2 linked regions of the Homo sapiens genome follow. The protein of the gene in region 2 interacts with the protein of the main gene of each other region in a pairwise test. Each region holds a gene or a part of one and is shown on either strand. Other genes may lie near its edges.

Region 1 (3,500 bases), on a different chromosome or scaffold from region 2:
CACAACAAAATATCACAGACTGGGTGGCTTAAACAACAGACATTTATATTTCAGAGTGCTGGGGGCTGGCAGTCTAGATGAGAGTGCCAGCGTGGTCAGGTTCTGGTGAGGGCTCTCTTCATGGCTTGCAGACAGCTGCCTTCTTAATACCACCGTTATGACCTCAATTAACCTTAATTAGCTCCCAAAGGTTTTATCTCCAGATACAGGCACATTGGGGCTCAGAGTTTCAATCTGTGAATTTGGAGGGACATACTTTGTCCATAGCAGAGCCCTGAGACTGAGCCCAGTCCCCTGGAGGTGAAAACCCTTTCTGGAAGGGCCACACTCCCCATCCACTACTGCCCTTCCTAGATCTCAGCTCCAGTGTCACCCCTTCTGGGCAAGGTCAGGCACCCCAGTGTGTAGCACATTGATCTGTGTGACCAAGGATGAATGGCCCTGTCTCCTGCTGGACTGTGAGCTCCAGAGGCAGGGCTACTTTGTCACCATTGTGGCCTGCCCAGGCAGGGACCTGGCAAATATTTATTGAGTAGTTGTTGGGAAGTCATGGAAACCGTGTGCTGTGCCCTTGGGTCTCACCAGAAGATCTGCTCAGGCCCAGGGCCAGGACTAGGCACTGTCCTGGCCAGGAAGGTCCCAGCTGCCCTGTGGCCTCCTGCCCTTGTCCCCCACACCCTCAGGGGTGCTGATATGCTGAATTTTAAGGAGAGATGATTCTCATATGGTTTTCTGCCCTTGGGGAGTTTATAGTCAAGTGGGACTTAGTTTCCTCAGAGGTAAGCTTAAGGGCACTGTGGCCGGGGTGGGGCAGGAGAGGGACATCTTCTCTAGCCTGGAGAAGTGAGTAGCTGAGGGTGGAGGAAGAGGGTATTCCAGGCAGGGTGCACAGCTTGGGCAAAGGCCTCGCTGCAGTAGAGGAGGACCAGGCAGTGTGTTTGAGCCTGACTTAGGTGGGGATTTGGTGGGGACTAGAACCATTAGGTGGTTTAGAGACCTCAATCCTCGACTCCATCCCACCCCTGCTTCAGCCAGCAGGTGACCCTGCTAGGGACCTGCCAGCGAGAGACCCGTTTCCTCTGAGTCCAGTCATGCTAGCTCCCTTCCTGGGGCTAGCGTGGGTGAGGGCTTCTTGCAGGGGCCCACATAGTTTTTCTCCTGAGTCCATTGGGCAGGATTGGGCCGGATTGGGCCAATCACAGAGGGATGGAGGGGTTCCCAGAGATGGGTCTGCTCTGGCCCACACTGCAGCTCACCCCTGTCCACTCTGTGCGGGGGCCACTGGGGAACTAGACGAACAGCATTCAGGTCACTGTGGCTCACAGACCCGTCGCCCCACTCCGCTCGTCCCCAGCAGCATGGAGGGAGGGAGAGCTCCCGTGCGCTAATTGGCTGAGCTATTTGGACCAATTGCTAATCAAAGGCTCCAAAGCCCTGGGTGCTGTGGTGCTGGGCTCTGAAGCTGAGGTTCACAAGGTATGGGGGACCTCAGTCTGAGCATCAGGTTGGCTCTCATTCTCAGGAGGGGACCTGGGCCACCTTCCCAACCCCCACATCTCTGTTGCCTCCTATTATCCCCGTAACCTTTCAGTCTCCATTGCCAAATGGGGGGGTTCAAGACCAGCCTGGACAACATAGTGAGACCCTGTCTTTAAAAAAAAAAAAATTACCTGTGGCCGGTGCTGGGTGCTTGGTAAGGTCACCTTGAAGCAGTCCTGTGCCCGTTCTGCACTGTTTTGTTTGTTTGTTTGGTTGGCTGGTTGGTTGGTTGGTTTTGGTGGGGTAGTGGGGTCGGGGGATGTGGTTTTTTGTTTTTGCTTTTTTTGTTTTAGAGACAGGGTCTCGCTCTATGACCCAGGCTGAAATATAGTGGCACAATCATCACTCACTGCAGCCTCTAACTTTTTGGCTCAAGTGATCCTCCCACCTGAGCCTCCCAAGTAGCTGGGACTACAGGTGCAAGCCACCAAGCCCCACTAATTTTAAAATTTTTTGTAGAGATAGGGGTCTCACTATGTTGCCCAGACTGGTCTTGAACCCCTGGCTTCAGGGGCTCCTCCTGCTTCTGCCTCTCAGAGTGCTGTGATTACAGGCGTGAGCCACCGTGCCCAGCCTCTCTGCACTGTTCTTTAACACATTTACAAATATTTACTGAGCATCTATTTCATTCTAAAGAACTAATCTTGAATAAAACCAGCCAGAATGTTTGCCTTCATTGAGCTGACAGTGCCCTTGGAGGGGTTAACTGTACATACACCTCTTTTTTCTTTTCTTTTTTTTTTTTTTTTTTGAGATGGAGTATCACTCTGTTGCCCAGGCTGGAGTGTAGTGACTCGATCTCAGCTCACTGCAACCTCCACCTCCCAAGTTCAAGTGATTCTCGTGCCTCAGCCTCCTGAGTAGCTGGAACTACAGATGTGCACCACCACACCCGGCTAATTTTTGTATTTTTAGTAGAGACGGGGTTTCACCATGTTGGCCAAGCTGGTCTTGACCTCCTGACCTCAGGTGATCTGCCCGCCTCAGCCTCCCAATGTGCTGGGATTACAGGCGTGAGCCACCGCGCCTGGCCTGTACATATAACTCTTAAAATGCTGCCCTGACCCTGGGGCTCACTTTCAAAGATGTCCACACTCTGTAGGCCAGGACCCCACCTGTCCCATACCCTTCCTGGCAGCCCTGTCCCTGCTACATCGCCCTTCAGCTACACCAGCTTTCTTTGGGTCCCTGGACCACACCTGATACCTTCCCGCCCAGAAGTGTTATCTCTGTCCTGGCAGTTGCTCAACCTTTTATGGTCCCTACCACCAAGGCCATCTGCTTGGTTGACATACCCACCCCAACTGTAATTAAATCATCCCCGGTGTCTCCTCACTAGACAGCTCCACATAAGCACAGCTGGTCCTTTTAGGGCTGTGTCCCCAGCACCTCCCACAAAGGAGGATGCAGTTCATCAGGATGGGTTGGATGAACAGCCCATTTTACAGATGAATAAACTGAGGCACAGGCAGGTGCAGGATTTTGGCAGCACTGCACACCTGTCCTGGCTTTGTCCTCCTCCCTGGGGAATGAGCTTGGAGCACCCCTCTAGGAACTGGGATGCCAGCCTCTTCCCTTGACCATCTTGGTCCTTGTCATGTGGGCCCCAGTACCAGGGGTGGCTTTAATTTGGCTGCCCAGGGAGGTGGTTCAGGGCTGCCAGGACCCCTGAAGTAGGCTCTCTGGGCTCTGTCCTTTGCCCCCCAACATGGTGCCTGTTTCTCCTGCCTCTTCATGCAGAGTGGCCAGCTCCTGGCCCATTCAGCTCTGAGTTTGAGCTCCTGGGCGGAGATTTTTGTTGCCTTGTAACTGGGATTCCTAGATCCAGCCTCCACCCTCTGATTGCCCTAAGGAGGTTTTGGGGTTTTGTTTTGTTTTGTTTGTGTTTTCGTAGGATGGTGGCAGTGATTTTGAGGAGGGGAAGAGGAAGGAAGATACAAGCAAGGGAAGTCACAGGCTGT
Region 2 (3,500 bases):
TTTGCATTTTGAACTCCTTCTATGCAGGTGTCAGCATTTGCAGGTATACAGGAACAGTCCTAGTGATGCACTATTTAATCAAAAGACGGATGGATCTTTTGTTCTTGCAGCTGGTTTTCCAAGAATTGATATAAAGCGGGAAGAACAGAAAACAGCAGTCATAAGTATGCTACTCAAAATATTCTTCTTTTTATGTGCCAAATCCTCACATTGGAAGCTGTCCCGAGCAAGACAGGTAGTTGGTGATTATGGCCAGAATTTATTCTGTGCTTTGACTAAAGGCTTGCTGATCAATATATGGTTAATGTTGAAATTGGGGTGCTTTTAGGACTCTTCAGTGGTAGAGCTGTCTGGTTAGAAATTAATCTTTAAGTTGGGATGCCGAGGTGGGAGGATCAGGTGAGGCCAGGAGTTTGAGACCCGGTCTCTACAAAAAATACAAAAAATTATCTGGGTTTGGTGGTGCACACCTTTAGTGCCAGCTACTCGGAAGGCCAAGGCAGGAGGATCACTTAAGTCCAGGAGTTCGAGGCTGCAGTGAACTGTGATTGCACCACTGCACTCAAGCCAGGGTGACAGAGCGAGACTTGGTCTCAAAAGTATATATAAAATGAAATACATTATCTGTAACATTTAAATAAAGGTCTGATCATTGCAGAAGTTGGCCTTACATTTCCCATTTACTGTATGTGCTGGGAGATTGGATCTTACCAAAGGAATTCTTAATGGAATTAATTATTAGGTGTTTGTTTTACGCATGGCTTTATGTTGCATGGGGCATGAAAGCCAGTGCCCATCCTGGCATTATAAGAGCAGGAGACCTGGCATTTTAAGTGGCCCGCAGTGAATGAGCTGGACTAGGACAGGGAGCTGTGGGAATGAGACTCACTCCTCTTGGCTTTTGCTGACTTATATTCTAAAAGACTTCGATGGCCTGAAAGTTGGCAATCAGGTTTTCCAAGATGAACCTGCTTTTTATGCAGTGATTTTTTTTTTTTTTTTAAACAGTGCAGAGTTCAAATAGCTCAACAGTATTAGCAGTGAATATCCTTCCTTCCGGGTAGTTGTCTCTGGCTTTGTCCTGGAATGGCCATACACTATTCTAGAATAGTAGGTGGCATGGTCAACAACAAAGTGTTCTGTTTTTTGTGCAAAACCATTGTTGCTTTCGTTCTGCTGTTCTGAACATCAGGAGCATCATTTTCAATTTATTATTATTATTATTTTTAGGAGTGGAAACAAAATGTCAGTCAGTGTGCATGAGAACCGCAAGTCCAGGGCCAGCAGCGGCTCCATTAACATCTATCTGTTTCACAAGTCCTCCTACGCTGACAGCGTCCTCACTCACCTGAATCTTTTACGCCAGCAGCGTCTCTTCACTGACGTCCTTCTCCATGCCGGAAATAGGACCTTCCCTTGCCACCGGGCAGTGCTGGCTGCATGCAGTCGCTACTTTGAGGCCATGTTCAGTGGTGGCCTGAAAGAGAGCCAGGACAGTGAGGTCAACTTTGACAATTCCATCCACCCAGAAGTCTTGGAGCTGCTGCTTGACTATGCGTACTCCTCCCGGGTCATCATCAATGAAGAAAATGCAGAATCGCTCCTGGAAGCTGGTGACATGCTGGAGTTTCAAGACATCCGGGATGCATGTGCAGAGTTCCTGGAAAAGAACCTGCATCCCACCAACTGCCTGGGCATGCTGCTGCTGTCTGATGCACACCAGTGCACCAAGCTGTACGAACTATCTTGGAGAATGTGTCTCAGCAACTTCCAAACCATCAGGAAGAATGAAGATTTCCTCCAGCTGCCCCAGGACATGGTAGTGCAACTCTTGTCCAGTGAAGAGCTGGAGACAGAGGATGAAAGGCTTGTGTACGAGTCTGCAATTAACTGGATCAGCTATGACCTGAAGAAGCGCTATTGCTACCTCCCAGAACTGTTGCAGACAGTAAGGCTGGCACTTCTGCCAGCCATCTATCTCATGGAGAATGTGGCCATGGAGGAACTCATCACCAAGCAGAGAAAGAGTAAGGAAATTGTGGAAGAGGCCATCAGGTGCAAACTGAAAATCCTGCAGAATGACGGTGTGGTAACCAGCCTCTGTGCCCGACCTCGGAAAACTGGCCATGCCCTCTTCCTTCTGGGAGGACAGACTTTCATGTGTGACAAGTTGTATCTGGTAGACCAGAAGGCCAAAGAAATCATTCCCAAGGCTGACATTCCCAGCCCAAGAAAAGAGTTTAGTGCATGTGCGATTGGCTGCAAAGTGTACATTACTGGGGGGCGGGGGTCTGAAAATGGGGTCTCAAAAGATGTCTGGGTTTATGATACCCTGCACGAGGAGTGGTCCAAGGCTGCCCCCATGCTGGTGGCCAGGTTTGGCCATGGCTCTGCTGAACTGAAGCACTGCCTGTATGTGGTTGGGGGGCACACGGCCGCAACTGGCTGCCTCCCGGCCTCCCCCTCAGTCTCTCTAAAGCAGGTAGAACATTATGACCCCACAATCAACAAATGGACCATGGTGGCCCCACTCCGAGAAGGCGTTAGCAACGCCGCAGTAGTGAGTGCCAAACTTAAGTTATTTGCTTTCGGAGGTACCAGTGTCAGTCATGACAAGCTCCCCAAAGTTCAGTGTTACGATCAGTGTGAAAACAGGTGGACTGTACCGGCCACCTGTCCCCAGCCCTGGCGTTACACAGCAGCAGCTGTGCTGGGGAACCAGATTTTTATTATGGGGGGTGATACAGAATTCTCTGCCTGCTCTGCTTATAAATTCAACAGTGAGACTTACCAGTGGACCAAGGTGGGAGATGTGACAGCAAAGCGCATGAGCTGCCATGCTGTGGCCTCTGGAAACAAACTCTACGTGGTTGGAGGATACTTTGGCATTCAGCGATGCAAGACTTTGGACTGCTACGATCCAACATTAGACGTGTGGAACAGCATCACCACTGTCCCGTACTCGCTGATTCCTACTGCATTTGTCAGCACCTGGAAACATCTGCCTTCTTAAATGCAGTACATTCTAAAGAGAGTGAGCATGAGGTAAGAAGTTTAGCTATAGATGTAAGTATGCATATAATTAGGCTATTGTGTAAGTTCAGTACATGGGGTGAGATCTGATCCACAGAGACTGTACTGCAGAAGTACTACCAAAGCTGTAAAAATAAGAGAGCTGGTGCCCCTAGAACTTATCCACTTGTGTTGACCACAGCCTCAGCCCCCACCATGGCATTAGCCAGTGGTTCTCAGCTTTTACTGAGCCTCAGAATCTCCTGAAGAGCTTTTTATTTATTTTATTATTATTATTATTATTTGAGACAGAGTCTCGCTCTGTCACCCAGGCTAGAGTGCAGTGGCATGATCTTGGCTCACTGCAAGCTCCGCCTCCTGGGTTCACACCATTCTCCTGCCTCAGCCTCCCGAATAGCTGGGATACAGGCGCCCACCACCAGGCCTAGCTAATTTTTTGTATTTTTAGTAGAGACGGGGTTTCACCA

What was found. The genes of interacting proteins can lie anywhere in the genome.
Region 1: the proteins of ENC1 (region 2) and NACC1 interact in a two-hybrid assay, tested with the Homo sapiens proteins (one study listed by BioGRID).

Annotation. Positions count from the first base shown.
Region 1 is NC_000019.10:13,128,264-13,131,763, forward strand, and holds part of NACC1 (nucleus accumbens-associated protein 1), read left to right. Parts: intron 1-3,500. UniProt on the Homo sapiens protein: Functions as a transcriptional repressor. Seems to function as a transcriptional corepressor in neuronal cells through recruitment of HDAC3 and HDAC4. Contributes to tumor progression, and tumor cell proliferation and survival.
Region 2 is NC_000005.10:74,634,229-74,637,728, reverse strand, and holds part of ENC1 (ectoderm-neural cortex protein 1), read left to right. Parts: intron 1-27; exon of another isoform or gene 28-235; intron 236-1,230; 5' UTR 1,231-1,243; coding exon 1,244-3,013; 3' UTR 3,014-3,045; intron 3,046-3,500. UniProt on the Homo sapiens protein: Actin-binding protein involved in the regulation of neuronal process formation and in differentiation of neural crest cells.